Homo sapiens: one gene and its partner. The protein of the gene in region 1 purifies or fractionates together with the protein of each later gene. This does not show direct contact. Each region holds a gene or a part of one and is shown in the gene's direction. Other genes may lie near its edges.

Region 1 (3,500 bases):
AGTCTTTTGACAGGAAGCTGATTTTTATTTTGCTTATTAAATATTTTACTAATTTATTAATTACAACAGATGTCTGATAAGAGATTATTGTTCTTAATATATAAAATGGTTGTGCAAAGTAATGAAAAACTCTAAAGATAAATGCTTACAGCCTGGACAATACAGTAAGACCTCATCTCTAAAGAAAAAGAAGAAAGAAAAATTATCTGGTCACGATGGCATGTGACTGTAGTCCTAGCTACCTGGGAGGATTTTTTGAGCCTAGGAGTTTGAAGCTGAAGTGAGGATCATGCCACTGCATTCTACTTTGGGTGACAGAGGAAAACCCTGTCTCTAAAAAAAAAAAAAAAAAAAAAAAAGCGGGCGCAGTGGCTCACACCTGTAATTCCAGCACTTTGGGAGGCCAAGATGGGTGGATCACGAGGTCAGGAGTTCAAGACCAGCCTGGCCAAGATGGTGAAACCTCATCTCTACTAAAAATACAAAAAAAACTAGCCAGGCATGGTGGCGGGTTCCTGTAATCCTTGCTACTTGGGAGGCTGAGGCAGAGAATTGCTTGAACCTGGGAGGTGGAGGTTGCAGTGGGAGGAGTTCACGCCACTGCACTCCAGCCTGGGCAACAGAGTGAGACTCCATCTCAAAAAAAAAAAAAAAAAAAAAAGGCCAGGTGCGGTGGCTCACGCCTGTAATCCCGGCACTTTGGGAGGCCGAGGCGGGCAGATCACGAGGTCAGGAGGTCGAGACCATCCTGGCTAACACGGCAAAACCCCATCTCTACTAAAAATACAAAAATTAGCCGGGTGCGGTGGTGGGCGCCTGTAGTCCCAGCTACTGAAGAGGCTGAGGTGGGAGAATGGCATGAACTTGGGAGGCGGAGCTTGCAGTGAGCTGAGGTTTTGCGCCACTGCACTCCAGCCTGGGCGACAGATGTGAGACTCTGTGTCAAAAAAAAAAAAAAATTGCTTAAAACATAATTGGGCAGAGGCTATGGGCAGATTTAAAAGAAGATAGAAAAGGCTAATAGGGCCGGGCAAAGTGGCTCTCACCTGTAATCTCAGCACTTTGGGAGGCTGAGGTGGGTGGATCACCTGAGGTCAGGGGTTCGAGACCAGCTTTGCCAATATGGTGAAACCCCATCTCTACTAAATATACAAAAATTAGCCAGGCGTGGTGATGGGCACCCGTAATCCCAGCTACTCGGGAGGCTGAGGCAGGAGAATCGCTTGAACCCGGAAGGCGGAGGCGGTGAGCCGATATCGTGCCATTGCACTCCAGCCTGGGCGACAGAGTGAGACTCTGTCTCAAAAAAAAAAAAAAAAAAAAAAGGCTAATAGTTAAAAGTGTGTATCTTCACTATAAATACAGTTGGCCTTTGAACAATTCATGGGGTTAGGGTGCTGACCCCCTACACAGTTGAAAATTTGTATATAATTTTTGATTCTCCCAAAATTTAACTGCTAATAGCCTTATGGCTTACTGTTGATCAGAAGCCTTATCAACAACATAGCTTCCTAACACATATTTTATATGTTTATATGTCTTATATATTGTGTTCTTAAAATAAACTAGGAAAAAGTGTTACTAAGAAAATCATAAGAGAAAATATATTTACTGTTTATTAAATGGAAGTGGATTATCATAGAGGTCCTTATTCTCATGGTCTTTTTGTTAAGTGGAGGGGGAAGTGTTATTGTCTGTGGGATGACAGAGGCAGAAGAAAATGCACGTGTAAGTAGACCCGTGCAGTTCAAGCTTGTGTTGTTAAAGGTCAACTGTAAATAGGAAATAAGGAAAATTAAAAATCTATAAAATTGATATTTGTACATATATTTGTTTTAAAATAAAATTTAAAATATACAATTTTTCAAAAATGAGTCAGTGAATTTCAAAAGTAGGTGAGAGTATGGTGAAATTGACCCTTCTAAATATTGCCAGTGGGAATATAAATAGATAAAAGCTTTTTGGAAAGCAATCTGACAGTAATTCATATTTCCTCATATGGTAATTTTTACCTCTGGGAATTTATTTTAAGGAGATAATCAAATGCAGACCAATATTTTTACATGAAATATTCTTCCAACTTGAGACAGCCTTAACATTTTTAGAGCTGGAGAATAGGTAGATAAATTAATGACACAACATAGTGTGGAATATTTTCAGGCATTAAATATATTTAACAGAATTTATGAATGACAGCAAAATGATAGTGACATTCCAGGATATGGAATTCTGTACGGTGTCTGAAATTGCATGAAACCAAATACTGGAAGGGAACAATACAGAAATGTGATAATTTGTGCATGGTGTGGTTGTGAATGCCCTTTTTTCACTGTTCTTTTATTTTTTGTTTTTTTAAGGCGAGCATGAATTACTTTTATAAGGGAAAAAACTCAGTTTACAGATACTAAGGACTATTTTAGATATTATAATACTGTAGTCAAATAGCTTATTAAAATATAAATATAAAGCAAAATTGAAAATGTATTTGAAAAGAGAAGGGAAGTATTTTTTTTCCTTTTATGCTCTTTCCTTTCCACTCCATAGTTGCCTAAGTCACTTACCCTTCCTTAAGTCCTTATCCCAGAGAAAGATGCGACTGCCATTGGTGACCTGTTAACTCTTTACTGTGGTCTAATGGAGACAGCACTCGACTGAAAGTGAAGGACCCAGACTCTAGTTGTAGGTTAACCATTCCCTTCTTTTTACCTCTTTTGCCCCATCTGAAAGGAAAGCGGGTGGAGGATGATGGGGGGAGTCCTTTTTTAGGATATTGTGGTATTAAATACATAAGAGACTTGTGAAAGTCCTTTGAATTCCAATAAAAAAAAGTTCTTGGCCAGGCGTGGTGGCTCACGCCTGTAATCCCAACACTTTGGGAGGCTGAGGCGGGCTGATCACCTGAGGTCAGGAGTTAGAGACCAGCCTGGCCAACATGGCGAAACCCTGTCTCTACTAGAAGTATAAAAATCAGCCGGGTGTGATGGCAGGTGCCTGTAATCCCAGCTACTTTGGAGTCTGCGGCAGGAGAATCTCTTGAACCCAGGAGGCAGAGGTTGCAGTGAGCCGAGATCACGCCACTGCATTCTAGCCTGGGTGACAGAGCGAGACTTCGTGTAAAAAAAATTTCTGGTTGAAACATTTAATGGATAATATTTTAAATATTAAGAGTGGGCTTCTTAAGCACATTAGATATTGCTTAGATTTTCTTAAGCGCATAGTGCAAATCTGATGATTCCCATTAGATTCATATGTTTATTCATTTGATCATTCAATAAATATTTGTTTGCCTTGTACTATCTTCTGTTTCTTTAGAGTAGTGGTTTTCAACTGGGGGCCATTTTGTTTTCCAGTTGGCAATGTGTGGAGAAATTTTTGGTTGTTACAACTCAGATGGAGGTGCTACTGACAGCTAGTGGATAGAGGCCAGGAATGCTGCTATACATCCTTCTTCCAACAAAGATGTACCTGGCCTACAGTGTTGGTAGTGCCACAGTTGTCAC
Region 2 (3,500 bases), on another chromosome or scaffold:
ACTTAGAAAACGAGCAAGTCGGAATCCTGTGGAATCTGCCATGGAATTAAAAGAGAAAAGGTCTCGAACTCAGGAAGCAAAAGACATTAGAAGAGCCCAGAAGGAGGCCGCTGGCTTTCTTGACAGGAGCACATCTTCTACCCCTGTAAAATTCATAAGCCGAGGCCGCAGGCCAGATGTGATTCTGGAAAAAGGCGAAGTGATTGACTTTTCCTCCTTGAGCTCCTCTGACCGCACCCCGCTGACAAGCCCATCTCCTTCTCCTTCTCTGGATTTCTCTGCCCCTGGTACACCTGCCTCTCATTCTGCCACACCTAGCTTGCTTTCAGAAGCAGATCTGATTCCAGATGTGATGCCCCCACAAGCCTTGTTTCATGGTAAGAGTTTGTTTGCTTTGCTCTTTTATTTTGGGTATGGGCCATGGTATAAATGTACAAGTTTTCACCCCGTGGGCTGTGTGCTCTGCATTTCTTCCTTCCTATGTCTTGATGACACTGTTTTGTACTCTGCACAGATGACGATGAGATGGAAGGCGATGGAGTCATAGACCCAGGGATGGAGTACGTCCCACCCCCTGCTGGGTCAGTAGCTTCTGGGCCAGTGGTTGGGGTCAGAAAGAAGGTCAGAGGCCCTGAACAGATAAAGCAGGAGGTAGAGAGTGAGGAGGAAAAACCCGACAGGATGGATATTGACAGTGAAGACACAGATTCAAACACATCTTTGCAAACAAGGGCTAGAGAAAAGAGGAAGCCTCAGCTGGAGAAGGACACAAAGCCGAAAGAGCCCAGGTATACTCCCGTGAGCATCTACGAGGAAAAGCTGCTGCTCAAGAGGCTGGAAGCTTGTCCCGGTGCTGTTGCCATGACTCCGGAAGCTCGGAGACTGAAACGCAAACTGATTGTCAGACAAGCGAAAAGGGATAGGGGATTACCACTTTTTGACTTGGATCAAGTTGTTAATGCTGCTCTTTTGTTAGTTGACGGGATTTATGGAGCCAAAGAAGGAGGAATTTCCAGACTTCCAGCTGGACAAGCCACGTACAGAACCACCTGTCAGGACTTCAGAATCCTTGACCGATACCAGGTGAATGCAAGCACTTGCTGTAAAGCCCTTGGGGGCAGGAGTGGAGGTGGGGCAGGCAGCACTAGGCATTGGACATGGTTATGCTGTGACCTTTTAAATCCTGAGTAATTTGGGAAGAGAAAAGTAAAGTGCAAGGGAAAAAAATACAAAAATCGCTGGGCTTTATTTTTCAGAATTGTTCATTGTAAGTACACCTGAATACATCTGAGTTTTTCTTTTCCTTTAGGCATTCAAACATAACCTATAAGTTTTCTTCATCTGTCTCTCTTGTCTCTCTCTCTCTGAGGATAGATATGCATGGTTTGTGTCGTAGCTTTGACAAATTTGTTGAGGCCATGACGGTGTCTCTGACACTGTGTTGCAGAGGATCTGAAGGTGTGTAGACATCTGCGAAGGACAACATGAAGAAATAGCAGCCAAGGGATCAGTGTGGTATCAGTGTTGCTCAAAGGATGGTCGGTGGAACCCAAATTTTGTGGATGCTTCTGGGAACAATTAATTCCACTTAGAACTACCTGTATATACTCTCCCACTGGGAGGAACAAGAGGCCTTATTCCCTTTATCTTTGCTAGCACTTGACACTAACCAGCCTTTAAGTTTTGCTAATTGGCTGGCTGTAAAGTGAAATCTTGTTTTTTATTTATATTTCTTTGGTTACAGGTGAGGTTAAATTTCCTGGTTGTTTCTTTGTGAATTGCCTGTTTGGAGTCTGCATGTTTTTCTCTCTTCTCTGGAAGCTAGTGGGATCTGCTCTTCATTGCTGGTGTTCTGGTATTATTCAGTGATGTGCCGTATGTAGGGCTTATGTCTTTCCTTGTGCTGGACATGTGGTGTGTGGGCCCTTTCAATTTGAAACTTTCTTTCCTGAGTATGGAAAAGTCTTGATTTCCTATCTTCTATTTTTTCTGTTCTCTCATTTTAGAACTCCCCATTATTTGGATATTGGACCCTGTAGATTAAAAGTTGGCAAACTTTATCTGTAAAGAAATAAGTATTTCTGCCAGATAGTAATTATTTTAGGCTTTGCCGGCCACAAAATCTCATTCGGAACTCTTCAACTCTGCTGTTGTGATTGGAGAGCCGTAGTGAATGAGTGTGGCTGTGTTCCAGTAAAACTTTATCTACTAAAATGGGCAGTGGACTGGATTTAGCCTGGGGGCTATAGTTTACCAAGATCCCTACTCCAGATAGATCCTCTTTTCTTTTTTTTCCTAATTCCCATCTTTCCTGGGAAGCACAGTATTAACTGGCCTGCCTACCAGGAGCCAAGTCGGGAGGGCCCAGGAGCCCATCGTTTAGGAGGTAAACTGACTCTCCCTGTCTTCAGTACAGTACTCCCACCCTTGGCTTCCTGTGTCCAGAATCTCCCTCTTGAGCCTCTCCAGTCTTCTGCCCGTGGAGGGAAAGATCATTTCCTAGATGTGGGCAGTATAATTACTATAGGGGTATAATTGGAGCCTTTAACCTCTTAAAGAGCCTCACAATCCATAGTCATACCCCCCAGGCTCTAAGCCTGATGCCTTAGGTGACTACACTTCCCTGAGGCTGTGTTTTGTAAATCACCCTGCTTAGCTTCACCACTGGCTTAGGTATTGGCTTTCTTTGGTCTGTTAAGTCATTTGCTGCTTGTTCATATGCTTTTGTTAGTCATCTATTCACTTGTTCTTGTTCTTTTTTTTTTTTTTTTTGAGACATGGTCTCTCTCTGTCACGCAGGTTGGAATGTAGTGGCACAACCACAGCTCATTGCAGCCCCGAACTCTCAGGCTCAAGCAATTCTCCCACCTCAGCTTCCCAAGTAGCTGGTACTATAGGCACACACTACCACACTCAGCTAATTTTTTTTTTAATTTTTATTTTTAGTAGAGACAGGGTCCTACTATCTTGCCCAGACTGATCTCAAACTCCTGGGCTCGAGTGATCGCCTCAGCCTCCCAAAGTGCTGGGATTACAGGCATGAGCCATTGCGCCTGGCCAATATTCACCTGTTCTTTGTTCTTATTCTTGTGGGCCTGTCTGTTTACTGCCTATACTTAATTTTTTAAATTGTAAGATGTGTCATACAGATAGAAGGCAGCATAGAAATATGGTATAATTTAGATATTAGTAAAATAAATGCCCATGTATTCATCTCCTGGATAAAGAGTGTTGTAAACACCTTAGAAGTCTCCTGTGTACTTTCTGTTCCCCTCAGAGGAAGCCACTTTGACTTACAGTGTTAATTATTCTTTTGCTTTTTAAATGTGTATGTCTCTAAATGATATACTTTTCGTTTAAAAAAATACTGAGTAGCAAGCATAAATCTAGCTGTGTAAGTAAATTGCCACTATTAGATGAAGTTTCCTGGAGAAGATAAGCTAAATAGTCATTCTGGGTCATTGTTGTGGACTGAATTGTGTCCCCCTTAAGCATATGTT

What was found.
Region 2: the proteins of KANSL2 (region 1) and KAT14 purify together in Homo sapiens (affinity purification with mass spectrometry, with the first as the bait; one large-scale study listed by BioGRID). This does not show direct contact.

What each region holds. Positions count from the first base shown.
Region 1 is NC_000012.12:48,661,739-48,665,238, reverse strand, and holds part of KANSL2 (KAT8 regulatory NSL complex subunit 2), read left to right. Parts: intron 1-3,500. UniProt on the Homo sapiens protein: Non-catalytic component of the NSL histone acetyltransferase complex, a multiprotein complex that mediates histone H4 acetylation at 'Lys-5'- and 'Lys-8' (H4K5ac and H4K8ac) at transcription start sites and promotes transcription initiation.
Region 2 is NC_000020.11:18,161,863-18,165,362, forward strand, and holds part of KAT14 (cysteine-rich protein 2-binding protein), read left to right. Parts: coding exon 1-377; intron 378-514; coding exon 515-1,083; intron 1,084-3,500. UniProt on the Homo sapiens protein: Component of the ATAC complex, a complex with histone acetyltransferase activity on histones H3 and H4. May function as a scaffold for the ATAC complex to promote ATAC complex stability. Has also weak histone acetyltransferase activity toward histone H4.